Linked DNA regions of Homo sapiens. The protein of the gene in region 2 purifies or fractionates together with the protein of the main gene of each other region. This does not show direct contact. Each region holds a gene or a part of one and is shown on either strand. Other genes may lie near its edges.

The links.
Region 1: the proteins of SYMPK (region 2) and CPSF4 purify together in Homo sapiens (affinity purification with mass spectrometry; 5 studies listed by BioGRID and IntAct, with this or other methods). This does not show direct contact.
Region 3: the proteins of SYMPK (region 2) and CPSF1 fractionate together in Homo sapiens (co-fractionation; 5 studies listed by BioGRID and IntAct, with this or other methods). This does not show direct contact.
Region 4: the proteins of SYMPK (region 2) and CPSF3 fractionate together in Homo sapiens (co-fractionation; 6 studies listed by BioGRID and IntAct, with this or other methods). This does not show direct contact.

The regions. Positions count from the first base shown.
Region 1 is NC_000007.14:99,434,637-99,441,959, reverse strand, and holds the start of CPSF4 (cleavage and polyadenylation specificity factor subunit 4), read right to left. Parts: upstream 3,018-7,323; 5' UTR 2,878-3,017; coding exon 2,775-2,877; intron 2,534-2,774; exon of another isoform or gene 2,364-2,533; intron 1-2,363. Other genes in the region: PTCD1 (pentatricopeptide repeat-containing protein 1, mitochondrial), read left to right, coding at 6,718-7,170; ATP5MF-PTCD1 (ATP5J2-PTCD1 fusion protein), read left to right, coding at 6,692-7,170. UniProt on the Homo sapiens protein: Component of the cleavage and polyadenylation specificity factor (CPSF) complex that play a key role in pre-mRNA 3'-end formation, recognizing the AAUAAA signal sequence and interacting with poly(A) polymerase and other factors to bring about cleavage and poly(A) addition.
Region 2 is NC_000019.10:45,860,129-45,867,691, reverse strand, and holds the start of SYMPK (symplekin), read left to right. Parts: upstream 1-4,544; 5' UTR 4,545-4,634; intron 4,635-5,664; exon of another isoform or gene 5,665-5,792; intron 5,793-7,563. Other genes in the region: FOXA3 (hepatocyte nuclear factor 3-gamma), read right to left, coding at 3,167-3,235. UniProt on the Homo sapiens protein: Scaffold protein that functions as a component of a multimolecular complex involved in histone mRNA 3'-end processing. Specific component of the tight junction (TJ) plaque, but might not be an exclusively junctional component. May have a house-keeping rule.
Region 3 is NC_000008.11:144,392,725-144,399,350, forward strand, and holds the end of CPSF1 (cleavage and polyadenylation specificity factor subunit 1), read right to left. Parts: coding exon 6,552-6,626; intron 6,479-6,551; coding exon 6,404-6,478; intron 6,315-6,403; coding exon 6,234-6,314; intron 6,145-6,233; coding exon 6,055-6,144; intron 5,915-6,054; coding exon 5,801-5,914; intron 5,720-5,800; coding exon 5,578-5,719; intron 5,507-5,577; exon of another isoform or gene 5,465-5,506; intron 5,409-5,464; coding exon 5,230-5,408; intron 5,156-5,229; coding exon 5,019-5,155; intron 4,938-5,018; coding exon 4,763-4,937; intron 4,690-4,762; coding exon 4,483-4,689; intron 4,206-4,482; coding exon 4,116-4,205; intron 4,018-4,115; coding exon 3,874-4,017; intron 3,777-3,873; coding exon 3,624-3,776; intron 2,828-3,623; coding exon 2,711-2,827; intron 2,632-2,710; coding exon 2,541-2,631; intron 2,459-2,540; coding exon 2,374-2,458; intron 2,300-2,373; coding exon 2,158-2,299; intron 2,073-2,157; coding exon 1,920-2,072; intron 1,832-1,919; coding exon 1,655-1,831; intron 1,577-1,654; and 14 more. Other genes in the region: ADCK5 (putative aarF domain-containing protein kinase 5), read left to right, coding at 52-168, 245-350. UniProt on the Homo sapiens protein: Component of the cleavage and polyadenylation specificity factor (CPSF) complex that plays a key role in pre-mRNA 3'-end formation, recognizing the AAUAAA signal sequence and interacting with poly(A) polymerase and other factors to bring about cleavage and poly(A) addition.
Region 4 is NC_000002.12:9,426,651-9,433,671, reverse strand, and holds part of CPSF3 (cleavage and polyadenylation specificity factor subunit 3), read right to left. Parts: intron 4,908-7,021; coding exon 4,844-4,907; intron 3,750-4,843; coding exon 3,652-3,749; intron 2,921-3,651; coding exon 2,792-2,920; intron 1,162-2,791; coding exon 984-1,161; intron 1-983. UniProt on the Homo sapiens protein: Component of the cleavage and polyadenylation specificity factor (CPSF) complex that plays a key role in pre-mRNA 3'-end formation, recognizing the AAUAAA signal sequence and interacting with poly(A) polymerase and other factors to bring about cleavage and poly(A) addition.

The DNA.
Region 1 (7,323 bases), on a different chromosome or scaffold from region 2:
AGCACTTTGGGAGGCTGAGGCGGGTGGATCACTTGACATCAGGAGTTCAAGACCAGCCTGGCCAATATGGTGAAACCCCATCTCTACTAAAAATGCAAAAATTAGTCAGACATGGTGGCACGTGCCTGTAATCCCAGCTACCTGGGAGGCTGAGGCAGGAGAATCACTTGAACCCAGAGGCAGAGGTTGCAGTGAGCCAAGATCGCGTCACTGTGCTCCAGCCTGGGTAACAGAGCAAGACTCTGTCTCAAAAAAAAAGAAAAAAAAAATTCTGAAAGTACTTCTGGTCTCTCTCTTTAGAGGTTAGAGTTGCTTCTGCTCAGAAATACACAGTTCTGGGAACTGAGTCTCATGTGGATAGGATGAGTATGCCTTATGGGCAAAGTGACAGTTCTTCCCAAAACTCAGATGGGGATGAAGAGGAGGGATGGGTGAGGAAGGGCTGTGGCCTCACTAGGCTTTAACTGAACAGGATATGGACAAGCAGCGAGTGTGGAGGGTGCCTACCGACTCTGAAGCCCTGGCTGGAGCAACACCCATGGCTAGGTGTGTCCCGGGCCTCAGGAACAGGTATGTGGGCCCCTCGCCACTGTACCTCCCCTCACAGGCTTGTGGATGTGTCAGATGGCAGAAGGGTGGGAGGAAAAGAGCTGCCCTGCGTGGGTGGTTCCATGGTCTCAAGCTAGTGCCATCAAGACAGGAAAAGGCCGGCTGGGCACAGTGGCTTATGCCCGTAATCCCAGCACTTTGGGAGGCCGAGGCAGGTGGATCATTTAAGGTCAGGAGTTCAAGACCAGCCTGGCCAACATGGTGAAACCTCATCTCTACTAAAAATACAAAAATTAGTTGGGCGTGGTGGTGGGCGCCTATAATCCCAGCTACTCAGGAGGCCAAGGCAGCAGAACTGCTTGAACCTGGGAGGTGGAGGTTGCAGTGAGCCGAGATCGCACCATTGCACTCCAGCCTGGGTGACAAAAGCAAAACTCTGTCTCAAAAAAAAAAAAAAAAAAAAGACAGGAAAAGGCCACATGTGCAGGGATGATCACAAGAGTCGAGGGGTAGGTAAGAGGGGGTGTGTGTGTGTGAATTTGAGCAGCTGCTTTTTAGGGAGTGTACAGTGGTGATGGTGTTTGTGCCTGTGTCAAATAGGGTGGTCTGATGATGTCTCCTTATAAGCACTATCTTGTCTTCTTGAAGACTTAATTAATTTCCAATGAAACTATCTTGTACAGAACTATCACCATGTAAAGTTGTGGGACAGGCAGGAAAAAAAAAAAAAAAAAAATATATATATATATATATATGCCAGGTGCAGTGGCTCATGCCTATAATCCCAGTACTTCCGAAGGCCGAGGTAAAAGGATCACTTGAGCCCAGGAGTTCAAGACCAACCCTGGGAAACATGATGAAATAGTGTCTCTACCAAGAAATACACACAAAAAAATTTGCCAGGCGTGTTGGTGCATGCCTGTGGTCCCAGCTACTTGGGAGACTGAGGTGGGAGGATTGCTGGAGCCTGGGAAGTCGAGGCTGCATTGAGCCATGATTGCGTCACTGCACCCAGCCTGGGCGACAGAGGGGCCCCTGTCTCAAAAGCAAACAAACAACAACAACAAAAACACATAAAGGGACAGACTCAGAGGTCACATGTGCATGAGAAGGTGTGACCGCCTGAGGGGAGTGAGGCTGCTGGGAGCGGTGGGAGACCCCGCTGGTAGTTGTGGGCGACAGCACACAACACTGGAGAGCTTGCCCGCCTCTGCTATGCACTGAGTGATTGTCAGCAAGTCCCTTCCCCCGCTTGGGTCTCAGTTTCCCCATCTGTGGATTGAACTCAGTGACTTCCACAAGCCCCCAAACTTTAAGGTTATAGCATTAGATTTCAAGTATGTCCAGATAGGAAAGAAGACACAAAGAAAACTACTGGTTTCTTTTAAAGTACAAGATATCCCACCGAGTAGGAGGTGGGAAGCCAGGAGCCACCATATGAAGGGGAGCAGTGAAGGGAGTTCAGGCCAAGGGTCCACACCAGCTGCTGGGTGTGATGAATAACTCAGAGTTGGGGTCCAGAAAAAAGTAGGGACGGGCCAAAAACTAGGGATGAGCTCCCAGGAGAGTGAGTCCTAGAAGGGAGTTTGAGAGTCTAGCTGGGGTCTCCTACAGAAAGGTGGTCCTTCCCTCAGCACATCTCCTCCAACCGCCTAGTTTTGATGAAATCAAGAAGAGACGCTCAACGTAGCGGGTGTGATATCCTAGTACTCTCCTGCAGTTGGGAGAGTGTTGAGGGAGAGTTCCAATCCAGGATAACCCACCCTTATTCAAGAATTAAGCGAACAGACAAGGTCTACCCTCCTACAGATTACCTTTGAACAGCCGCAGAGGGCCAAAGATCCGAGGCAGTGAACTCCTGAGTCCGAGTGAGGGTAAAAGGAGTCCCCAGACGGTGGAAATGGGGGCCTGGGAGTCAGGAGTCCTGAAACCAAGGGGAGCGTCCCGGGATCCAGAAGAGGAGGTCTCAGGATGGAGTGGGAAGAGTCTCGGGACCACAGATGAGGGAGTTCGGTAACTAAAGGGGAGGATCCCAGGACCCGGAGGAGGTGGGAGGGACTCTCAAGACCTAGAGGGAGGAGTCCTGCGACCAAAGGGGAGGGGTCCCAGGATCCAGAGGAAGCCGGGGGAGGTCTCAGGACCGAGGCGAGGGAGTCCCGGGATCACAGAGGAGCGGGTCCCGGGTTCGAGTCGCTCTTGCCCTCCCGCCCGGGCCCCGCGCTCACTGTCCATGCCGGGGAAGGGCAGCGGCTGCGCCCCCAGCTGCTGCTCCACCGCGATCTCCAAGTCAAACTTGATGTGGTCCACGCTGGCGATGATTTCCTGCATGGCGGCGGCGGCGGCCCCACCGGCCCGGCTCCCCCTCGGTCTCCTGCAGCCTTCTCGCCTTTACCCGCCGCCGGCCCCGCCGCACACACTCCTCCTTCGCTTCGCCTCGCCGCCGCCGCCGCCGCCGCCCGAGGGATGCCGGGAGCGCCCGGAGCCCGCGCCGGCCCTTGCGCCTGTCCAGGCACTGCCAATCGAGACTCCGCCGTTCCGCTAGTCCCAGCTAGCCGCCAGCCGAACACCGGCCTCGCCAGAAACCTGAAACCAGCCGCGTGAGTCGGCGACGCGGATTGCGCCTGCGCGCTTGGGGAGAGGGGGACCCGAGGAAGAGACTGGTTCGCCGCGGGGACCGGGCAGGGCTCCCCGTCGGAGTGCACTGCGCCGGACACTTCAAGTGAGTTCCTGTGTGATCCTCGCAGGAGCCCCGGGACCCGGGCCAAGACACGCCAGAGGGGAAGGAAGTGCCCGAGCCGGGATTGGAGCCGGGGGCGTCTGAGGAGGGAAACTGAGGCTGCAGAAGTCCGTGTGGAGAGGGGTCGGCGTTGGCCTGAGGGTCCGGGTGGGCCTCTGAGGAGGGGCGGGTCTCTCCGAGGAAGGACGGCCGCAGCGTGTCTCTAATTCAGGGTTTTTTCTCGCTCTGTGGCCCAGGCTGGAGTACAGGGGTACGATCATAGCTCACTGCAGTCAACTTCTCAGACTCAAGCGATCCTCCCACCTCAGCCTCCCGAGTAGCTGGAACTACAGACGCTGCACCACCACACTTGGCTAATTTTTAAAATTTTATTTTTAATTTTTGTAGAGACGGCGGGGTTGGGGGGGCGGGTGGCGGGTCTTGCTATGTTGCCCAGGCTGGTCTCGAACTCCTGGCCCCAAGCCCAAAGCGATCCTCCTGCCTGGGCCTCCCAAAGTGCTGGAATTGCAGGCATGAGCCACTATACAGCCTAATTCAGGGTTTTTTTTAACCAGGGTGGGGTAATGAGCTTGTGTAGGAACAAAATGCACCCCTATTTTTCTCTATGTGAAGTATAGCATTTCCTTTCCTGATTGCTGGAGCAGCCTTAGCAGTGCCTGAAACTGTGAGGGTGAGTGTAAATGATAGTTCCAGATAACAGTTTGTGCAGGGCCAGGCATGGTGGCTCACACCTGTAACCTCAGCACTTTGGGAGTCTGAGGCGAGAGGATCACGTGAGGTCAGGAGTTCGAGACCAGCCTGGACAGGATGGCAAAACCCCGTCCCTACTGAAAATATAAAAATTGGCCTGGAGTAGTGGCGCGTTCCTGTAATCCCAGCTACTTGGGAGGCTGAGGCATGAGCATGGCTTAAACCCGGGAGGCAGAGGTTGCATTGAGCCGAGATTGTACCACCCCACTCCAGCCTGGTGACAGAGTGAGACGCAAAAAAACCCAGTTTGTGCAGCAACTACAAGGTGGTATCTTAAGCTGTCACTTACATTTATTACTGCTTTGAAATTATGATAGAGTCGGCCGGGCGCGGTGGCTCACGGCTGTAATCCCAGCACTTCGGGAGGCCGAGGCGGGCGGATCACAAGGTCAAAAGATCCAGACCATCCTGGCCAACATGGTGAAACCCTGTCTCTACTAAAAATACAAAAATTAGCTGGGCTTGGTGGCATGCGTCTGTAGTCCCAGCTCCAGGGGAGGCTGAGGCAGGAGAATCGCTTGAATCCGGGAGGCGGAAATTGCAGTGAGCCGAGGTCACGCCTGAGGACAGAGTGAGAGACTGTCTCAAAAAAAAAAAAAGAAAAGAAAAGAAATTATGATAGGGTCTTGTTATTTCATGCATTGAAAATAAGCATCTATACTAGTATAGCAGAAATTTGTTTTTAAAGCATTTTGATGCCATTTCAATATCATTGCTTTTTGTTTTGTAATTCTGTGTATTGTAATTAATGCACGTAAGGCAGGGCATGGAGGCTTACGCCTGCAATCCCAACACTTTGGGAGGCCAAGGCTGGAGGATTGCTTGAGGCCAGGAGTTCTAGACCAGCCTGGCAACATAGGGAGACTCCATCTCTACAAAAAAATACAAAAAATTAGACAGGTATGGTGGTGTGCACCAGTAGTGCTAGTTAATTGAGAGGCTGAGGTAGGAGGATCACTTGAGCCCAGGAGTTGGAGGTTGCAGTGATTGTGCATTTGCACTCCACTGTGCCATCGCACTCCAGCCTGGGCAACATGAAGACCCCATTCCACAAAAAAGAAAATTACATAAACACCATGCTTGTAAGAAGGAGTGGCAGGGCTTGCCAGATGCAGAATGATAAAGGCCCCCTGCACTAGTTTCACAAAAGGTGCTGGTCAGGACAATCATCAATGCGTTACATGGACCTGAGTTCAAAGCCAGCCCAGCCCAAGCTGGCCAGTCTCACCCACTGCACTGCTGCAGGACCCCAGCAAGTCTCTCCCCTTGCTGGGCCTAGTTTTTTGTTTGTTGTTGTTGTTGTTGTTTTGAGATGGAGTCTTGCTCTGTCGCTCAGGCTGGAGTGCAATGGCGCGATCTTGGCTCACTGCAACCTCTGCCTCCCACGTTCAAGTGATTCTCCTGCCTCAGCCTCCCAAGTAGCTGGGATTACAGGGGCACGCTGTCACGCCCAGCTAATTTTTATATTTTCGGCAGAGATAGGGTTCACCACGTCAGGCTGGTCTCGAACTCCTGACCTGAGGGGATCCACCCACCTTGGCCTCCCAAAGTGCTGGGATTACAGGCGTGAGCCACCGCTCCTGACCTACTGGGCCTAGTTTTTAATCTGTTCAATCTGCCATCACTTGTAAGACTTTTCCAATCGCAACCTTCTAATATAACCAGACTCTAAAATACTTTAGGCTGGGCATGGTGGCTCATTGCTGTAATCCCAGTGCTTTGGGAGGTCGAGGCGAGAGGATTGCTTGAGTCCAGGAGTTCAAGACCAGCCTGGGCACATAGCAAGACCCTGTCTCTACCAAAAAATAAAATTAGCCAGGCATAGTGGCTCACACCTGTAGTTCCAGCTACTCGGGAGGCTGAAATGGGAGGATCGCTTGAGCACAGGAGGGTGGGGCTGCAGTGAGCTATGTCTGACCTGAACCTAGGCTTTCTAACCTCTGGGCCCATACTTCTTATTTTATTTATTATTATTATTTTTTTTTTTTTCTGAGACAGAGTCTCACTGTCACTCAGGCTGGAGTGCAGTGGCGCGATCTCAGCTCACTGCAAGCTCCGTCTCCTGGGTTCAAGCGATTCTCCTACCTCAGTCTCCTCAGTAGCTGGGATTAGACGTGTAGCACCACACCCAGCTCATGTTTTTTGTATTTTTAGTAGAGATGGGGTGTCGCCAGGCTGGTCTTGAACTGATCTGCCCGCCTCGGCCTCCCAAAGTGCTGGGAGTGCAGGCATGAGCCACCGCCCCTGGCCTGTTCTTTTTCTTTCTTTCTTTTCTTTTTTTTTTCGAGACAGAGTCTCACTCTGTCACCCAGGTTGGAGTATGGTGGCGCAATCTCAGCTCACTGCAAGCTCCATCTCCCAGGTTCAGGTGATTCTCCTGCCTCAGCCTCCTGAGTAGCTGGGATTACAGGCGCACAGCACCAAGCCTGGCTAATTTTTGTATTTTTCATAGAGACGGGGTTTCACCATGTTGTCCAGGCTGGTCTCAAACTCCTGACCTCAAGTGATATGCCAGCCTCGACCTCCCAAAGTGCTGGGATTACAGGCATGAGCCACCGCGCCTGGCCTGGGCCCATACTTGTAACCACTTCTTTCTTTCTGCCTTTTGTTACTAGGAACTGAGTTGACTCTCTTATTTTTCCTGATATATTCCAGGCCCTGGAGGGACAGGAAAGCCAGAAATGGACTTCGTGAGACTCGCTCGACTGTTCGCCAGGGCCCGCCCCATGGGACTGTTCATCCTGCAACACCTGGACCCCTGTAGAGCCAGGTGGGCAGGAGGCAGGGAGGGGCTGATGCGGCCAATGTGGGCGCCCTTCAGCAGCTCCTCCTCTCAGCTGCCCCTCGGCCAGGAGCGTCAGGAAAACACGGGCAGCCTGGGCTCTGACCCGAGCCACTCCAACTCCACGGCCACGCAGGAAGAAGACGAGGAGGAGGAGGAGAGTTTTGGGACCCTCTCTGACAAATACTCCTCCCGGAGACTATTCCGCAAATCCGCAGCCCAGTTCCATAACCTGCGGTTTGGGGAACGGAGAGATGAGCAAATGGAACCGGAGCCCAAATTATGGCGAGGCCGGAGAAACACCCCGTACTGGTACTTCTTGCAGTGCAAACACCTGATCAAGGAAGGGAAGGTAAGGGGCACTTTGGGTTCTGTGGCTCCTGGCTTCTTTCCCCTGGTGGCTCAGTGTTTTGCAAGGGGTCACCTGACTTTCCCAGCCTCTAAGTTTTGGGCCTACCCTGTTGAACTGCCAGCCTTATGGCTGTAAGTATCGCAACCCTTTGCC
Region 2 (7,563 bases):
TCTCCTGTCTCAGCCTCCCAAGTAACTGGGATTATAGGCATGCACCACCATGCCCAGCTAAGTTTTGTATTTTTAGTAGAGATGGGGTTTCACCATGTTGGCCAGCCTGGTCTTGAACTCCTGACCTCAAGTGATCCACCCTCTTCGGCCTCCCAAAGTGCTGGGATTACAGTCATGAGCTACCATGACGAGCCACCATCTTCCTATCAATCTATCTATCCATCCATCCATGCATCTATCTATCTATCTATCTATCTATCTATCTATCTATCTATCTCCCTCCCTTCAACAAATCCATTCCCCCTCACCCCAAGTCTTACAGTGAAATTGCAGCCACAGTTACTCCCTTCCCCCATGCAGGCTCTCCCGCTGGTTGGTGGCTTCGGGTCCCCTCCCCAGAAAAAGAAAAGGGATGAGGTGAGAAGGTGATGGATTAGAGGGGTCCACAGAGTTTCCAAATCCCCCTATACCTCCACCCCCCATTTCTGCAACCCAGTCAGGCTCTCTGGTATTGCAGAGTAAGACAGACAGGGACCCCAGGGCCCTCCTTTCTGGCTCCCCACCCACCCGGAAGTCCTCCTTGAGGTCCGACCTCAAGCACTCCAGCTGCCCTAATCCACCCTAGGCTTTCCCACGCCCCGGGGCTGGGATGAACCCCTGGTGTCCGGGTCTGAGCCGGATCTCCCCTGACAGGGTGGGGCTGAGATTGGGGGGAAGCCCTTGGGGGACCCGCACCCCCACACCAGGAGACTGGAATTTCTCCTCTTTCATTTCCTTATTGTCTCTGGAGAAGGGTGTGACAGGGAGCAGAGGAAGGCAGTGTGAAGCCAGAAGCCAAGTTTCTAGTCCCAGACCCAACCCAGGACCCCAGTGTTCTGCGTGCGGGGCTTCAGAGTTAACCACCTCTAAAACAGGGGAGCAGCTGGACCAGCTGATCTGCAAGAACCTGAGGCCAACAGGGATATCCCAGGATGGTAACTTTCCAAGTTCTTTCCAGACAGCAAGCTGCCCTGAGTGTTAACGTCACCCCAAGCGGGAGGGTGCTATGGGCAAGAAGTGGTTTGGGGACCCTCTCAGCTCTCAGTTGCTGGCTGAGTGTAGGTATTTCTCTCCCCATTGTTCTGACCCAAGGGGAAGAGGTGGGCTTATCTGATGGGAAGGCTGGGGAGAGCCTCAGACAGTATCACCCAACCATTTCCATTCCTCCAAATACTGACTCTCCCAAAATATGCCCTGAAATGCTGATTACCTCCAGACTGTCCCTCTACTATTATTATTTTTTGAGATAGGGTCTCATTCTGTCACCCAGGCTGGAGTGCCGTGATACGATCACAGCTCCCGGCAGCTCGAACTCCCAGCCTCAAGTGATCCTCCCACCTCAGCCTCCCAACCAAGTAGCTTAGACTACAGGCATGCCTGACTAATTAAAAAAAAATTTTTTTTTTAAAGACAAGGTCTCCCTATGTTGCCCAGGCTGGCCTCAAACTCCTGGGCTCAAGAGATCCTCCCACTTCGACCTCCCAAAGTGCTGGGATTACAAGTGTGAGCCACTGTGCCGGCTTTCCTTCAATTTCTGACACAATTTCCATACAAATTGTCCCCTAAACTTGGATCTATTCAGACTGTGCCCCAAATATCAACTCCTCCTGCCTAGACCCCCATCATTTACTTAAGATGTGCCCCCAAAACAACTGTAGTTGGTTTGTACAATTGGTCTGTAGGTGGTTCCCTTAAATCAGGTCCCCAGACTGAGTTCTGCAGAGGTCCAGCTGGGATCACCCCCACTACCTGGAACCCTCCATTTCCCACCTGGGTCTCTGCCTTCCGCATCTCACAACTGATACCTCCAGCCACCCTGCCTCCACCTCTCAACACTCCCAGTCCCTTTCCCTGTTGGCCCTGCCCCACCCCACGTGCACCTCACACCTCCCCAAACCCAGGACTGGCCCTTCCCAGGCACCTTGCCCAGCCCTGAAGGCCTGGGGATCCAGGAGTCCCACCCTACAGTTTCGAGCCCCAGACCCAAGACTCAGGCACACTGGGGCCCCCGCAGTCACCAGATCTTGACTCCTTGGAGAACCTAGCCATTCCTGCCCCACACCCCACCTCAAGCCCACAGTCCCCTTCCAGGTTAGAAGTCCAAGTGTCCAGACCCCCATAATTCTCAGACCAAGAACCCAACCCCCAGCCCCAACAACCTCACAACGTTGATTACAGAGTGAGGTAGCTAAGGTGTAGGGGTCGTTGCAGCAAGACGAATGGGGGTCAGACTTGAGGAAGGACTTTCTGTCTGTCCAGGTGAGGGGATTAGAATATGCCGCCACCCCCCACTCCAGGGAAGCCTTGTCTGAGGTGAGACTGGATGGGAATTTTAGCAATAGCTGGAGGTTGCTGGACTGGCGGGGAGCAGGGGAAGGTGCACAATCTAAAACTCTCCATCTTCCGACTTGGGGAGTCCCTGCGGAGGGTCATGGGTAGGGATGGGGGGGTGGAGATCGGCCCCTCTCCTGCCAATGCTGATGGCTACATCTTCTGCTCCCAGATGCCCAACTCTAAGCCACCTGTTATTTCAGACTCCAAAAACGAAGCTTCATCTCTGAGCACCCCCATCTCTGACCCCTGAGCACCAATCCCTATGTCTGACCCTACCTTAGATTACCAGCTGATCCTTAGCCCCGAACCCCGGTTCTTTAACACTGTGTGCTGGCCCTGAGCTCCCACCTCAGTCTTCCCCTTAATGGTGACTCCTCCTCCATCTTTTAGTCTTTCTTTCCCTCCAACTTTGAACCTCACATCCTGAAACCCCCTAGTCTGTCCCCTACCCTGGAACTCTGATTCCTATCTTTGGTTTGTACATATAAATCCCTTGCTTTTTGGGGCTCCAACACCCGGCTCCCAAGTTTAAGGTGTGACCCGACCCTTGGCTAAATTTTCCTGACTTCCATTTTTAAGCCCTGGCCGCGGCGAGGCTGCCCAAACAGCGCTCCCATCCATGCCTCGTCCCCGGTCCCCGACTTCCACACCTGGTCTCCGTGTTCCCAGTTCCTCAGCTGCCCAAGTAGACGCCTTTGCCTCCATTTGAACCCACAACCAGTCCCTGCTCCATGTGAGCCCACACCCCGATACCTGCCCCCAACTTCCCGCTCCGCCATCCCCGAGGACACACCTCGCCCGCCTCCGGGTAGTAGCTCCACTCGGCCAGGTCATGGGCCTCCATCTTCACTGAGCCCAGCATCCCCCGGGCTTACGCCCCCACCCGCCCCCGCTCCGGCCCCGGGGGAACGGAGCGCTCTGGATCTCTCAGCGGGCACGGCCCGAGCTCCCACCGGCGCCCGCCCGTCCGACCGCCCGGGGTACGGCTGTCCCGAGCGCCGCGGGAGGCGGCCACGCTTTATAGCCGGGACACCCCCGCCCTCGCCCGCCCCGGGCTCCCCTCCCGCCTCCCCGAGGGCGGCGCGCTCGGACTGGGGCGCCCCCTGCGGGATCGCCAGGAGACAGACCTCAGGCGCCGGGGGCCGCAGCCCCAGGACGCGACAGCTGGGGGTGATTCAGGAGTGAGGGAGCTGCCCGCAGCGACGCTGCAGATACCAAGGGCCCCGAGGTCAGAACTCTGGAGCCTTTCTACCTCAGGGGGCTTCATCATCTCGGCAGGAGAGGACGAAGAGCCAGAGCCCTGCATGACCGTGGCGGAAGAAAGGGGAATCAGAACGCTAGGGCCACTATGCGACTACAAGGACCCGTAAAAGGTCCCCGAAATCACATCCCCATTGGACAGACAGGAAGACTGAGGCTTCCGACGGCTAGAAATGCTTAACTTGGCCGGGCGCGGTGGCTCACGCCTGTAATTCCAGCACTGCAGGAGGCCGAGGCGGGCGGACGAATCACTTGAGGTCAGGAGTTTGAGACCAGCCTGGCCAACAGGGTGAAACCCCATCTCTATTAAAAATACAACAACTAGCTAGGCGTGATGGTGCGTGCCTGTTATCCCAGCTATTCGGGAGGCTGAGGCAGGAGAATCGTTTGAACCTAGGAAGCGGAGGTTGCAGTGAGCCGAGATCGCGCCACTGCAGTCCAGCCTGGGAGAGAGAGCGGGACTCCGTTTCCAAAAAAAAAGAAAGAAAGAAAAGAAAAGAAAAAGAAATGCTTCAGACTGTTGAAAGGGTCAAGAACAAAGATGGAGGGGATCGGGGCCTCTCCGCAGACCCCACTAGGGCAACAGACCACCTCCCCTCCAAGACCCAGGAGCTTCGCTGCCCGAACTCCGCACTCTCCAAGACCAGCCAGCCGTCCAGGGACTCAGCACCACTGAGAACTCCATTTCCCAGAATGCTCTAGCTCCCTTTCCGCCCGGTGCCTCCGAAGGGACTACATTTCCCAGAAGGCCTAGCCGGACCCAGAGCCGGAAATGAAGGGTCTGCTCGCCGTAGTATGGAGGCGGGCAGAATGCCGCTCGCACGGGACGAGGCATGGGCGGGGTCGGGCTGTGCTCTGGACTCCATTTCCCGGCGGCCCTGGGTGTGTGGCGCGTGCGCACCGTTCCCGGCGACGAACGGAAGATGGCGGCGGCGGCGGCGGCGGAGTGTAGGAAGAGGCACTGCTGAGGGGGCGCGAGGGGAACGGAGGCCAGAGCTGCGGTGAGCGGGAGGCGGCGTTTGGGCCCGGAGACGAAAGGAGGAGGCTCCTAAAGAAGCAGGGGCTCGGGCGGGGAGGGCATCGCCGTGGGGAGAGGGGAACAGTGGCTTTCGCGACCCATGTTTCTTCCCTTGCTCAGGACCCTTCCTTGGCTCCCTAGTGCCCTCGAGGCAAAGTTCCAACGTGGCCCCCCGGGCGCCACCGCCCCGCAGACCTCGCTTGCTTCGACTCGGCCTCTTTGCTTTTTCCCCCACCTCTAACAGCCGCCCTGGCCTTTCGGTTCCTTAAACTTGCCATGCGCTTTCCCGCTTCGGGGATTTTGCACAGGCTGTCCCTTCTGCCTGCAACATCCTTTTACCCATTCGGCTTGGCTAACTCCCATTTCATCCTTCGGGTCTCGGCACCAACGTCACTTCCTCTGCGAAGCCCTCCTTCCCTGCCCTCCATCCAGAAATCCGCCTGTTAAATGCTTTTGTCGGTCCGTGTTCCTTCATGTCACGTGTGGTCTAATTTGTTATCCGACTCTTATCTGTGTGCTGTTTTATGATGTCTATGACCGTGTGTTCCATGAAGGTAGGGACTAGGTTTGTCTCTGTCGCCACTGTGTTCTCAGCACAGCGCCAATCACGCCGGAGACGCCCAGCTAATGTTCGTTGAAGGAATAAAAGATACTCCTAGAGCCAGTTTGGGGAAACAGGGTAGTCATCAGATTCCTAGGTAGCAGTGGGGCAGGGTACCACTTCTTAACGAGTACATCGAGAGGGAAGGGGAAACAGTGATACTGTTCATCATAGCAAAAGGCTACACGCATCCCAAATGTTCTTAAATAAGAAGATTGGCTGAAAGAAACTATAATACATCCACATAAAAAATACTATGCAACTCTAAAAAGGAATGAGGTAGATAAAAGGAAATGATGAAAATCTCTATACACTGATATAGTGGCCTCCAACATATATTAAGGGAAAACAAGTGAAGTGGAGGTTGGTGTTTATTGTATATGCTTTTTCTTTTTTTTTTTTTTTGAGACAGGGTCTCACTCTGTCGCCCAGGCTGGCACGATCCCAGTTCACTGCAACCTCCACCTCCCTGGTTCAAGTGATTCTCCCACCCCAGCCTCTCGAGTAGCTGGGATTACAAACGTGCCCCACCACACCCAGGTAATTTTTATATTTTTAGTAGAGACGGGGTTTCTCTGTGTTGGCCAGGCTGGTCTTGAACTCCTGACCTCAAGTGATCTGCCCACCTCAGCCTTCCAAAGTGCAGGGATTACAGGCCTGAGCCACCAAACTCGGCCTGTGTAGGCTCCTTTTTTTTTTTTTTGAGACAGAGTCTCACTCTGTCACCCAGGCTGGAGTGCAGTGGCGTGATCTCGGCTCACTGCAACCTCTGCCTTCCAGGTTCAAGCAATTCGCCTGCCTCAGCCTCCCAGGTAGCTGGGATTACAGGCACACCACCACGCCTGGCTAATTTTTGTATTTTTAGTAGAGATGGGGTTTCACCATGTTGGTCAGGCTGGTCTTGAACTCCTGACCTCGTGATCCACCTGCCTCCGCCTCCCGAAGTGCTGGGATTACAGGCGTGAGTCACCGCTCCCGGCCCTGTGTATGCTCTTTTTGTAAATGAAAGGGAAATATGTATATATGGGTTTTTTTATTTTCATTTTTTTTCCTTTTTTTGCATAAAATCTAGCTCCTGCAGGAGAATTTTGTGTATGTGTGTTTAAAAAAGAACAAAACAAAACTGAAAGCATAAACCAAAAAGCAGAAGAAGAATGAAACAGGGTAAAATATTTTGGTTGATCTGAATGTATTATCATGAAAAAAGTGGAAATGTTTATTATGGGGTTTTATTTTATTTTATTTTATTTTTTGAGGCAGAGTCTCATTCTGTCGCCCAGGCTGGAGTGCAGTGGTGTTGGGATTACAGGTGTGAGCCACCATGCCCGGCCTGTTTTTTTTATGTTTTGACTGGGGACGGCATGCCATGCCGGTTGTCTGGTGGCCAGGATCCTTGGCTTACGTAAACAGACCTGGGGGTAAAAAACAATTCCTTTCAGATAAACAGTACTGTAGCATAGTGGTAAGGAAGATATGCAGCCATGCTGCTGACTCTGCCTCTTACAAGCTATATGCCTTTGGTCAGGTCACTTTACCTCCCTGGTCTTCAGTTTCCTCATCTGTAAAATGAAAATTAAAAATACTAACTCCCAGCCTGGGCAACATGGCGAAACCCTTCTCTACAGAAAGTACAAAAATTAAATGGGGATTCGCCTGTAGTCTCAGCTACTTGGGAAAATGAGGTAGGAGGATCGCCTGAGCCCGGGAGGCAGAGATTGCGGTGAGCTGAGATTGCGGCACTGCACTCCAGCTTGGGCAACAGAGTGACACCCTGTCTCAAAAAAACAAAAAATGTAAACCTAACTCATGTATATTAATTCTAATATATACATATTAATTCATTTAAACCTTGGTGTCTGAGGTTTAAATGAGTTAATATGTATATCTTAGAATTGTGCTTAGCACATATTAAGTGTTCTCTCTCTCTCTTTCTCTTTCTCTCTCTGTGTGTGTGGGTTTTTTTTCTTTTTTTTTTTAATTTGAAACGCAGTTTCACTCTTGTTGCCCACGCTGGAGTGCAATGATGTGACCTCGGCTCACTGCAACCTCCTCCTCCCAAATTCAAGCGATTCTCCTGCCTCAGCCTCCCGAGTAGCTAGGATTACATGTGCCTGCCACCATGCCTGGCTAATTTTTTTGTATTTTTAGTAGAGATGAGGTTTCACCATGTTGGCCAGACTGGTCTCAAACTGCTAACCTCGGGTGATCCACCCGCCTTGGCCTCCCAAAGTGCTGGCATTATAGGCTTGAGCCACCGTGCCCGGCCGTGTTCAATATATATTAACTGATTATTTTTTCTTTTTTTTTTTTG
Region 3 (6,626 bases), on a different chromosome or scaffold from region 2:
CGTGGTGGGGCTGGTGTGGGGCTGACGCGGCGCTAACGCGGGTGTGTGCAGGGCTGTCCGGGGCTGGAGCCGCCTGGCGGGCGCCACGTATCGGGGTGTCTACGGCACCAGCCTCCTGCGCCACGCCAAGGTCGTCTGGGAGATGCTCAAGTTTGAAGTGGCGCTCAGGTGAGTGGCCGCGGGGCAGGTGGGTGGCGGGGGCCTGCTCCCCACCCACCTGTGACCTGTGACCTGACCCACGCAGGCTGGAGACCTTGGCCATGCGGCTGACCGCCCTCCTGGCTCGTGCTCTGGTCCACCTGAGCCTCGTGCCCCCAGCGGAGGAGCTCTACCAGTACCTGGAGACCTAGGGTGCAGCCGCCCAGGGCCGGCGGGGCCCTTTTCACCTTGGGCTGACGGAGGTGGCGGGGCTAGAGGTGTAGACACCCCGAGCCCCGTGGGCACTCGCACTGGGGGGCTGTGACAGCAGCTGGGCCAGGAGGCCGTGTAATGACCACACACTCCTCTCAAGCAAAAAATGTTTTTCCTTGTGTTTTGTACAAAAAGGGGGTGGGAGGTAGTTCCGTGTGCTGGTGGTGACGGCATCCACGGGGCTAGAAGTGGGCGGTGACGCGGTCCGTCTCCAGCAAGTCGTCCAGGATCTGCAGGGGATGGAAGGGTGGGTGGGTGGGTGGGTGGGGATGCACACGGAGGGGCGGGGCGCGCGGGGGGCGGGGCGCGCACTCACTATGTCTGGTGTGGTGCCGATCTTCTTGGCTAGCTCGCTGCGCTCCATGGTGCTCAGGTACAGGTAGCGGTTGAGCAGCTCCCCATCCAGCACGTTGCGCACGGCATTCTGGAGGGTGCGGCGGTCCACGTGCAGCATCCTGGGGCGTACAGGCACAGGTGTCAGGGCAGGCTGGGGTGGAGGGGGTGCTGCACGGGGGCGGGGCCGGGGCTCACCGGAAGGCGCGGGGGTTGAGGCCGGCGTGGTGTGGCAGCATGGTGGTCAGCGCGTTCTGCAGCATCAGCAGCCGCCGGTAGGTCTTCTCCTGCATGGGCAGCAGCAGCCCGATGCCGCCGTCCAGGGTGGCTGGCAGGGGTAGGGTGAGGGTTTTGGTGTGAGCCAGGCCAACCCTAGGGCCCCCCACCCAGACACACCTGCTCCCCCACACTCACCAAACCACGTGATGTGCTTATTCTCCCACACGACCGACTTTTTGCTGAGCCCTTCAGTGGCCCCCCGGCACGGGGTCCTCCAGAACGTGTTCACGTGGGCACCCACGTGGAAGTCTGCCCGACGCAGCAGGCGCATGCCCCCGAAACTCTCCTTGGCTAGACCAGAAAGGCCTAGGGGTCACTGCTAGCCCAGCCCCGGCCCAGGCAGAGGGGGTGGAGGAAGCACTCACCTTCGGGCAGGTACATGTACACCATGAGGTTGCGGTCGCGGTCAGACACTGGGGAGCAGAGGCCCAGGGTCAGCCCCGGCCACCCCCAGAGCCTCAGCTCCCCAGGGCCCTGCCCACATACCCAGAAAACCCAGCTGGGCATTGTCCACCATGAAGTCCACGCTGTACACCTCCAGGGGCTTGGCATCCTGGGGGCGGGAAGGGGGCGTCAGAGGTGCCTTGGGCGGGTACCCACCCAGACACGAGCACCGCCGCCACAGGTGTACCCGCGACACCAGGCTCAGCGTCTTGCTTTCCTCCTGGTAGCGCAGCAGCGAAATGCTCTTCATGACGTCGGCTGCCAGGATGAAGTTCTTGACGCTGATCATCTGGTGTATGTAGAGCTGCGTGTCGATGAAGGCCATGCCCGTCAGCTCGCTGGCCCGCAGGCTCCACAGGAAAATCTGGGGGCGAGGGCGAGGGTGAGCGGGCGCGGACGGGGAGCCGGGTGAGGGTGAGCCGGGGGACACACGCCGGGTGGGACTGGCACACCTTCTGGCCGATGGCCGACACCAGGTGGCCATTGCAGTGGCACAGGGCGGTCACGGGCCCCTTCTGCTCCTTCTCGTAAAGGACTTTGAACTTGTTCTTGGTCAAGGGCTGGCCAGGCTCGGGCACCACCTCAATCACATCCATGATCAAGATCTGGAGGGCATGGGTATGGCTGTGGGATGGCTGTGGGGATGGCAGAGGGGCTGCCAGTTCCCGCCCCCGCTCACTGGCCCCTTACCCGCCCTCGGCACGTGACCTCCTCCCCCTGCATGAGGCAGGTCCCGGCGGCCACGTAGCCTTTGAGGCCCGACACGGTCTCCTCACTGCGCAGAGACACTGTCTTCATGCAGGTCACATGCTCCCACTCCTGCAGCTCGATCCTGTGGGGGCCAGGGGCCTCAGGATGCTGCCTGGAGGCCTTGGGCAGACCCCACCCCCGCCGGCCCAGCCTCACCTGGCATTGGGAATAGCCTCCCAGCTGACCGGGGAGATGAGCTGGATGGAGAAGGCCTCCTGCTGGGGGTGGATGTACCGCTCATCTGTGGGGACCAAGGGTGACAGTCAGAGTAGGGCTTCCCCAAGATGCGGCTGAGGATGGGAGTATGGTGTGGGCGTCACCACCTCTCTCGATGGTCTCAAACTCCTTCTCCTCGCCAGTCATGCGTGGGATGCGGGCACACGGCGTGTTGGTGCTGGTGGCCACAGCATACACCTGTGGGTTAGTGAGGGTCACACACCAGTGGCCCGGCCAGGCCCAGAAGGTCCCTGGTGGGGTGGGGGTGGGGGCAGACCTTAGACTCCACGTGGTAAGCCACATAGTGGGCCGTGCAGCGCAGCGGGATCTTCCTGACAGGCCATGGGGCATCATAGGACAGGTAGGCAGGCAGGACACTGATCCTCAGCTCGCCCTGGGGTGGGGGCACAGGGGTCAGGGGATCCAGGGCTAGCCAAGGGCAGGGGCAGGCAGGCCCAGGCCGCCAAGAGCCCTGGGATGTTGCCCTCAGCTCTGTGGGAGCAGGGGTGGGTGAGGGGCAGCTGTGTCCTGGCGAGGTCCTGGAAGGGGCTGCCACTCAGCCTCTGGGGCTCCTCCTGTCCATTTTCCCACGCTCAGCTGGGGCTAGGGGTGCTGGCCACAGGGGATGGGAAAGCTAGGCCAGGAGGGCACTGGAGGCTGCAAAGGGCAGCCCACAGACTGCCATGCTGGGGACTGAAAACCAGGCAGAGGGAGCCAGGGCTGCCCTCTTTCATGGACAGTCCTGAGTCCTCAGGCACCCAGGAAGCACTCACCGCATCCCAGGCAGGGTCTCAAGTGACCTGGTGGTGTGGTGGCTTAAATAGGGAACCAGGATGAGAAAGCCTGTGTGCCCTCCCAAAGTCACAGAGCAGCCAAGGGGCAGAGCTAGCACTCACGTCAGCTCTCCTGAGAAGTGTGGAGGCCAGGCCCTGCGAGGGCTTGCCCGGCGAGCCGGCAGAGCAGTGGTGGGGACCCCAGGGGCTGCAGCCCCAGCTCCCAACCACCCCTTTCCAGACCTTTGGAGCAACCAAGTCACAGGTTCCACCTCCTCGACCTCAACCCCATCGCCCTCTGGACACTCCTTCCTGGTCCTCAGGGTGGAGCCAATGGTCCCTTCTCCTGTCCCCTCCCCCTCAGCCCCCAGCTGGGGCAGCATCAGCCAGTGCTGCTGGGAACCGGCCGGGCCCCACCTGTCTGTTGAAGTACAGGAAGCCGCGGGGACAGTTGACATTGTGGAATGGAGCGAAAGAGTCGACCGGGCCGTCGATGGCCATGGGGTGTAGCCGCAGAGCCCCTCGGCCGGTCACCAAGAGCCAGTGAGGGGAGGGGCCGCAGATGAAGACCTGGGGGCAGGCACCGTGAGGATGCTGTGGATGAGGATGCTGCGGATGAGGCCGCGTCTCCCTTCTACCACAGACCCCTGCAAAGGCGCTGGCCTACCCCTGAGTAGCCATAAATATCCTCGAAGTAGCGGAAACGCGCCACGCGGCCCCGGGCCCCAGCCCCCTCCTCTGCGCCGCCACCTTCTGCTTTCTTCTTGGATGGCTTTGGCTTCTTCTCACGGAAGTTGATGTTGTGAGGGACCTGGGGGGGAACCATGCAGGTCCTCCAGGGGCTGCCGGTCTGAAACCCACACCTTGTACCACACCCACCCCACGCCCCAGCAGTCCAGCCACTGGCACCTTCTTAAAGCGGACTTTGAGATTGCCCTGGCCGAGCTGAGAGTCGTGGGGGAAGGCCTCGTAGATAAGCAGCTCTTGGTCCACATGCACCTGGCAGGATGAGGGGAGCCATGGGGGAACGGGCAGGGCCATGGAGAACATGGGATGGGCCATGGGAAGAGGTGGGCTGTGGGTAAGGGGCGGGGCTGAGATGGGGTGGAGCCATGTATGGGAAGGGGCGGGGCTGTGAGGGAGATGGGGTGGAGCCACGGGAAGGGGCGGGGCCGTGGGGGAGATGGGGTGGAGCCACGGGAAGGGGCGGGGCTGTGGGGGAACGGGCAGGGCCAGGGGGAAGATGGGAAGGGGAGGCCAGGCCAGGCGCACTCACCAGCAGGTAGGGCCTGCTCTGGCGGCTGCCCAGCGCCACCAGCAGCACCTCCTTGACGAGGGGCAGCTCCCCCTGGCGCGTGGCCTCCTCCCTGCGGGCCTCGCCCTGTGTAGTGGGCTGTCCAAAGGAGCTGTCCACAAGGACCCGCTGCCCCACAGGGAAGTTCTTCACCAGGAACACCAGCCGCCAGTCGGGAAGCTGGTAGATCTGCAGGGTGGGCAGCAGTCAGTGGAGGCAGGTGGGTGGAACCCGCTGGGCCACAGTGCAGGGCACCACCTACCTCCATGGTGCCATTCTCCCGCACCAGCAGGCACCAGTGGGTAGGCTCTGCCCGGAAGGGTGCAGGGTCCCGGTCAGCAGGGGGCTGGCTGCTTCTTCGGGCCTCCTCCTTGCTGGGGCTGAAGAGGGAGCCCGAATCCCCATACAGCATCTCCTCCTCGTCATCCACTGTGGGGCTGGGGGCCAGCAGAAGGTCATGGGCGGCCTGCCAGCCCCAGGGACCCAAGCCCCTACCTGCGCCCCCAGCCCCCACGCACCTAGTCTCTGAGCCCAGGCCCTCGGCCTCCGGGCCACTGCGGCCCCCGAGCTCGTCACGGGCCCCACCCAGGCGGCTCTCAGTGGTGAACATGCCGCTGAGGTCTCGGTACAGGCACAGCGTAATCACCTTGGACTGCTGCGGGGAGAGGGGTGGGCTCAGCGGCGGGCAAGGGGCAGGGACAGGAGGGCGCCGGGAATGAGGGGGCCTACATGGTGCAGCGGGGGCTTGTGCAGCGCCAGGCGGTGGTGGCGGCCACCGTAGGAGTCACTCTTCAGCAGGAACATGGTGACGTGGCCCTCGGCACTCATGATGACCACATAGGGGTCGGCCACGGCGCACTGCACGATGGGGGCGCCCAGGTCCACGGGGATGAAGTGCAGCTGATTCACTGTAGGCATGGGGCAGTCAGCATGCGCCTCCCCACCACCGTCCCCACCCACCTACCTCCTTCCAGCAGGCGGATGCCCAGGGCCCAACCACCTCCCCCCCACCGTCCCCACCCACCTACCTCCTTCCAGCAGGCAGATGCCCAGGGCCCAACCACCCCCCCCACCTACCTCCTTCCAGCAGGCGGATGCCCAGTGGTGACACTTGGACAATGTAGCGGTTGTCCCCGATGTTCCCAGCAAAGACCGTGGGGCCCTGAGTGGCGAAGCCACTGGTGTCCAGCTCCATGATCTCCTGCCCCGTCTGCAGGATCTGCGGGCGACAGCTGTGAGGGAGGCGCCCCCCGCAGGGGACCCCAGCCCCAGGTCCCAGGTCCCAGGCCCTGCCCCTCACCATGGTGGAGTCTTCCCGGCTCAGAATCAGGAATCCGTGTCTGCGGCCGTCGTCGTCTGCTTCAGGGGTGGTGCTGGGTTCCTGCTCTGTGCCCTCCCCCTTGGGATTGTCCTCCTGTCAGGGCCAAAGGGGGGCAGGCTGGAAGCCACAGTCCAGTGAAGGCAGGCACGCAGGTGCGACCTGGGCACCCCCGGCCTATGAGAAGGCAGCGCCGGTCCCATCCCAGGGCCTCCCTGCAGCAGGCTCGCACCTACCTCCTCCTTACGCACCGGGGCGATGACTGTCCACATGTCATAGCAGCCGGGAAGCTCAAAGGTTGTCACCACCTGGGGCCGGATGCTCTTCTAGAATGATGATGGGGTGGGGGTGTGATGGGGGTGTGAGCCCACCCAGGTCCCACCAGGAGGCGCCCGCCCCCTACCTGCCCACACACCTGCAGCACCGACAAAGCCCCGTTCTTCCCGTGGCCGGAGCAAACCACAATCTCCAGGTCCGGCTCGGGGCTGTTCTGAAACTGCACAGGACTCGGGGGTGAGGACTATGCCCCCCACCCCCCCTCACACTCCAGCCCCTGCCCCCAGCCCCGACCCCAACCCTGGGCACCTCTTCAGAGAGGAAGGCAGGCTCGCCCACGGCGGCATTGGCACAGGGTCCAATGTTCAGGATGCTGTCACACACCTGCGGCACAGCAAGAGTCAGGGGCCCGCTGGGGGCGCTGGCTGGGACGGGGGCCCTGCTGCCTCAATCTCACCTCAAAGGAGTAGGTGGCCAGCTGTGTTCCCGACTGGGCCTCGCTGCCGTACACTTCAATCTCGTCCACCTCATC
Region 4 (7,021 bases), on a different chromosome or scaffold from region 2:
AGTAAATGGGAATAATCTATTCCCAGTATCATCTCACAATGATAACCTATATAACATTAATCCACTTGAGAAGTGCTCTGAACTTCTTAGAGAAAAAGGGCATGCAGACAAGGAAAGGAGTGCACTGAGGTACATGGTCTAAAACCGGAGATAAAATCATAAGAGGGTCTGCATCAAATTCCAAGAGAATTCACATCTGCATTTGTGCTACTTATTTTTTGTGCCCTGGAGCAAACTGCAAGAATAAGTGATTTAGTGATATACTTTACAATTCAATGTCTAAAAGTTCCAAATGTATAAGCAGCTGTGAAAAATTTAGGACGTGACACTAGAGCATTGGTTCTCTGGCTGACGTTAGAATCACCTAGCAAACTCGAAAAGGAAAAGGCCAAGCTGCGCCTCCAGATTTTGATTCAACAGTTATTTTCAGCAGCTCCCTAAGTGAGTCTTATTTGCAGCCTGAGTTCAGAGCGGCTGCTCTGGAGTCTGGAAAGCCAGCGGCCCACCCACGTTGTCAGAAGTTCAAGGCTTCCCCAAAGATCTTTCCTAATTAACCCCTTTCACTCTTGCAGTCCACCCTGCTTAGGGGCTTACCTGTGAATTCTAAGACATCAGGGGGACATGAATATCAAATTGTGTTTTAATTTTAAACGAATGCAGCCACAAAGACACCTCTTCCCTAACCAGTTTTCTAAAGCAAACGGAATCCTATGGTGTCAGGGAATCACTTTTTGAGATGTTTATTTTACTCTTTTCTCAGTCTTTAAAAATTTTTTTTTCCTCAGTCTTGATAAAGAAAGTATTGTAATGGAGGTAGGAACTGCAATATTTAAAAGGAACAAGCGTTAACTGTATTTTTATCTTATGTTTCCGTGTTCTGACACTTTGCAAGTCTTAGGGAATTTTTTTTTTTAATAGTACTTGGTGGCACAAAGCTCTGTACTGATTTCTCTGGGGAGAAAAGCGCCACAGCCAGAGGGTACCTTCACGCCTGCGATCTCAATCATGAACATGGCGGCTCCTAGGACGTGACCTGCATGGTAACACCAAAACTTGATTCCCGCAACTTCCTTAACTTCATGAAAGTTGATAGTTTCAATTTTGTCCATGCTTTCTTCCAAATCTGTCTCGGTATACAGCATGTCGTCTGCTGATATGTTACTAAATTTTGAAAGATGCCAGCAAAAACAATTAAGAGTCAGATTTTTTAAAAAGCCTTTGAACACAAAGAAATTGTGGATAACATCTCCATGAAGATATTTCTTTAAAATATACTGTATGAATCATGTATTTAAAATTTCTCAGATATTTTGTGTATTTTTTTTTTACTCTATTGTGTGTATAGCTACAAAACTTGATTTTAAACAAACCACACAGGAAATTAAGACACTGAGCTCAAAGTACTCTCAATTTTCAATAATACATACAATAAATTAAGACAAAATACTCTTTAGGATAGTACTTCTCAAACTTTTTTCCCACCCCAACACTCCTGAAAGATATAACACACTCACATACATTGAACCATGGCAGATATTTCTCACATTAGGATGAGAAAAGATTTTTCTACAAAGTCTAGCACAACCTTTCTCCTGAAAATTATGTTAATGTACTTACAAAAAAGCAAGAGAGAACAGTGGTTAAGGACGCTGACTCTGGAGCCAGATTGTTTGGGTTCAAATCCTTGCTCTGTCTCTTACTGTGACGATTTTAGGCAAATAACCTAACCTCGCTGTGCCTCAGTTTCATCATCTATAAAATGGAATTTATAATAGAACCTACATCATGAGTTGGTGTGAAGATTAAATATATTTATCTCCCGGCTGGGTGCGGTGGCTCAACCCTGTAATCCCAGCACTCTGGGAGGCCAAGACAGACAGATCACCTGAGGTCAGGAGTTCAAGACCAGGCTGGCCAACATGGTAAAACCCCGTCTCTACTAAAAATACAAAAATTAGCCAGGCGTGGTGGTATGCACTGTGTGCCTGTAATCCTAGCTACTGGGGAGGCTGAGACATGAGAATTGCCTGAACCCGGGAGCAGAGGTTGCAGTGAGCTAAGATAGCGCCACTGCACTCCAGCCTGGTCAACAGCACAAGACTCCGTCTCAAAAAAAAAAGAAAAAAAAAAAGAAAAAAAAAATATGTATATTTATTTATCTTTGTGTGAAGTTAATATACATTAGGAATTTAGGATTGGGCCTAGTATGTGGTAAGCATTATTGAAGTGTTAACGAGTGTTACCACAATTAAGCATAACTCTTCCAATCCAGCCTAATGAAGTTTTAAAAGGACACAAAAAGCTATATAAAGACTTCAAGGCCAGGCCAGTGGCTCATGCCTGTAATCCCAGCACTCTGGGAGGCCAAGGCAGGAGGATCACTGGAGCCCAGGAGTTTGAGACTAGCCTGGGCAACATAAGACCCTATCTCTTCAAAAAACAAAAAACTCTGCTGGGTGTGGTGGCACACACCTGTAGTCTCAGCTGCTCAGGAGGCTGAGGTGGAAGGACTGCTTGAGCCCAGGTGGCTGAGGCTGCAGTGAGCTGTGATCACACCACTGCACTCCAGCCTGGATGACAGAGCAAGATCCTGTCTCAAAAAAACCTTCAAGGTCAGGAAGGTGCTAGAAACACAATAGGTTTCAATGACCTTGTTAATGAATGATGAAATTACTGATATCCTTATACATGAAAAGGGAGCACCTCATTTTAAAACACAAAATGGTCCATATCTTGAACCATACATGCCATATAGAGCCAAAGTCGTGTATAATCTAATAAAGTAATTTACCTAACTTTGACATAATCAGAAAGAAGCCATCTATAAATAGCTTTTGTGGCATGAGTCATAAATGTTCTTCCTTTGAAACTTGTCTTCTGTAGAAACCAGGGCAGAGCTCCACAGTGATCCAAATGGAAACTTAAAAAGAAAGAGGCTGCATTAATTCTTAAAATTATTATCCATCAGATACCATGTAATGAAACTGTTGCTTACTGTACAAAACAAGTTTTATATAAACAACTATGTGCTGATACTTTCAGAAAAACCAAGAGTAGGTATGTGTAGAAGGAAGAAGTAATGCATACAGTTCTAAAATGGAGGAAAGATGTTTAAAGTATTGTTTTTAAACAGCAAAAAACTTTATTAGTGAATTAGGGAGGAAGAAGAATATCCCAAGCCTACTCCTGGCAGCCAGAATTACAGCAAACATTTTAACAGAATAAAGTTGAAACATGGATATCTCCCTGAGGTCACTGTCTTGTCACATTTTTCTATATGAACTCTATTTAAAAATAGTTTCAATAAAGGTGAAATGGCGTTCTTATAGAAGAATGTGATAAAACAGTGACCTCAAGGAGATATCCTGGAAAAGGGCTTTCTTAGTCTCAAGTTTTACAATGATTCAAGTTCTGTACTATCTCCTTCTCACATACTCACTGAACTTATACATAGAGGTAGGTAAGTTTTTCATAGCAAACTTCTCTAGCCTGTGATGACATTACGGAGTGTTGGTTTAGACTCAGATGTCTGCAATATGCTTCCTAGCAGAAAACACTCTTTTAAAAAACCAAACTCTCAAAATCTAGTAAAGAATGATCTTGATAGTAAAAGTCCGTGAAAAAGTGTCATTAATAAAGGGAAAAACTTACTGACTAATTAATAGGAGATCAATCTCAGCTGGGTCAATTAAATCAATATAAGGAAGAGCATCCATTCCTTCTAGGCCAGGGTGGATCCCACAGTCGAGCTGAAAGAAACAGGAAAAGAGATCACAATCTCCTGCACATTTTATTAAAATTCATTCGGCAAATAGGCAATAATTCTAGTTCCATCACCCATATACTCAAGATGGACTCCAGGCACTAGCACTTGGAACATGATTCTTATTAAATGTGGCAAATATGCCATTAACAATTCTAACTTCCCAACAAATTTAAAATATAGCTCACATTTAGGGGTCACAGGATGCAAAGTACAAAACAGCTTCTTTCCAGCTACTTTTGGTCGTCATTCTAACAACGAATTAAATCTTTTTCAAAAACTTTGATATCAGATTAAAATTTTAAAAGTTTATAGATTTACTACTACCAGATCGACTCTCGTGAGAAGATAATAATTAGAAATGGGAAACTTACCTGATCAGGGTAATTTAAATATTTTAAGGCATTAGGGAACAAATTCTTAAGACTCAGTCATTAAAGTTACTTATTTTTATGGCGTTACTACCAAATTAACAAAACAGATGACTAAAAGGATGACTATGTCTGACCTATACATGTTCTTTTCAGATTGGGAGGAGTTGAGAAGAAAGAGGAATCAAAGGAATCTGAGACACAGAACTGACTTTCTAATGAGTACCTTAGAAACTATCTCCTCTAACCCCTCTACCTTTCAGGCTTAGAGAAGCAAAGTGACTTGGCCAAGGCCGGCAGCCCCAGTGGGACCTGGGGATCCAAGCTTCTAGGCCAAGGCTTGATCCCCACATGCTGGAGGCGGCTAGAGCTCTCAGTGTGTTCAGAGTGCTTGGGCCCTTGGGATCTTCCACTGGGGGTGGGGCAGTTAGGCTGGCTCAACCCTTCAGGAGTGGAAGAGGGACTTTGAAGAGGTAACAGTTCAACAGATCTAGCTGACAATTTTACAGTCATAGAATATATCTTCTTAATCAACTAAATTACTAAGTAGAAGTGTGTATTAGTTTTTCTCATTAACACTATACAGCATAGATTACATGTACTATAACATTTTTCTGGGAGCTAAAAAGATAACTAGTCTATGAGAAAAGACTAACACCCAATACAGACAGAGCCATACTATTAAACTGAGTACAAAAATAGTAATTACCATTATTTTTCTTCCTTTGAACTCGAGAATAATACATGATCTTCCTACTTCTTGCCCAGCTCCACTGTAAATATTCAAGGGGAGAAAAAGAAGGATTAAAAAAAATCAAAACCAAGTCCAATAAACTTACACTTTTTTACAATGTACACTACATGCCATCTGATGACAGCACCTCACTGAAAAATTCTGAGACGTAAGAGAGTTCTACAAAATCACAAAGACAGGGAAGAACAGTGTCCACATGAGAACAGATGAAAACTGATCCTTGGGAGTCCAGGGATCTTGCAGTTCTTAAAATTAAGAGAGAAGGCGGTACAGATCCAAGAAGCCCAAAGGTTTGGGCTTGATTTAAATTCAATTTTCTGAATTTTAGGATTAAATTATAATGTATTTAAAATGTAAACTAGCAGTTACGCAGATTATATAATAATACTTCTAGAATTAGCACTTAAGTAGAAAGCCATAAGCATTTCAACACTGTCATCTTCTTTAAGATCATAATGTGTATTTGCCAAATGGCTTAAATTTAAATGGCCGGGTGCGGTGGCTCACGCCTGTAATCCCAGCACTTTGGGAGGCCGAGGCAGGCAGATCACGAGATCAGGATATCGAGACCCATCCTGGCTAACACGGTGAAACCCCGTCTCTACTAAAAATACAAAAAATTAGCCAGGCGTGGTGGCGGACACCTGTAGTCCCAGCTACTCGGGAGGCTGAGGCAGGAGAATGGTGTGAACCCAGGAGGCGGAGCTTGCAGTGAGCTGAGATCGCGCCACTGCGCTCCAGCCTGGGCAACAGAGCGAGACTCTGCCTCAAAAAAAAAAAAAAAAAATTTTTTTTTTTAAAATACTTATTCATACTGTGAATTTCAATCACTTTTTCTTCTACTTTCTGTTATTTCAGCATATTTTATACCAACTACTTACATAATTTTTGTTTCTTCTTAATAATTTCAGCCATAATTTGCAATGGTCACAAGGCACACTTTAAGTTAAACCTCATCTTTCAAATCCCTCACCTTCTTTGATGCCTTTTCCCAACCATTCTAGCTCACAATCCACTCACTCACTCAACATTAAGCAGCTTCTATTTGCCAAGCACTGGATTAAGTGCCTAGGACATGGAAATGCCTTACAGGGACCCTGACCTCAAGGAACTCAGTCAGATGGACATGCAATGGATCTATCCCCAAACTGAGATCCTACCTCCAAACAGGTGTTGATACAGAAGATCAAACAACTGTGGATGAGAGCCGCCATAAATTCCTGGCCTTCCACTTTTTAAACATTTTTTATTTGTAATTATTGTGGATACCCTGGCCTTCCACTTTAACTGGCCCTCAATGTTGCCTGGCTGTTTTCTCCATTTCATTTCCATATCAACTATTTTCAAACTTTCTTCCCTTTCCCAAATTTTCCAACCTTCTATCCTCTTCTTCACTTGAGGCATGGGCCATCTTCTGCATCAAAAAAATAAACAGTCCATTTGTAAATTTCCTCAACTTCATGTTGGTACAATAATTAAGAATACATGTACCAACAGGGTACCAACCTGCCCACATCTGTCTCCTTCTATTTCTCCTCTATAGATAGAATAGACCTCTCTTTCCACAATGAAACTTTCCACCATTCTACTCTACGTACTCCCTCCCTCCTTCTGAGGAACTCAACACTGCTGTGTCATTGACATTTTCCTCACTGTCTGCTCTTTACCATCCAATCCAAATTTAAACATACTACAGCCATGTTCATCCCCAAATTAAAATCCCTTGACTCTAAGCTCCTTTAGTTCCCACTTTATTCTTTCCCCAGACCACCTCCCAGGGCAGTGGACCCTCTTGTACTTCCTCACCTTCTACTCGCTCCTCAATTCGCTATACTCTGGCTTTTACCAATCACTTTTCTGAAACTGTCCTTGCTGCTCAGTAGTCATTTCAGTCTTTTTTTTTTTTTTGAGACAAGGTCCCCCTATGTTGCCCAGTCTGGCCTTCAACTCCTGGGCTCAAGTGATCCTCCCGCCTCAGCCTCCCAAGTAGCTGGAACTATAGGTGTCAGTCCCTATCTTGTTCTCTTGGCAGCCGTTGTCACTCCTAAGGAGTACCTGCTCCTTCCTCAAGCACCTCTCCCTTGGCTTCTCTGACCTGATGCTCTCATCTTGTCTTGCTGGCTTTCCTGTTTC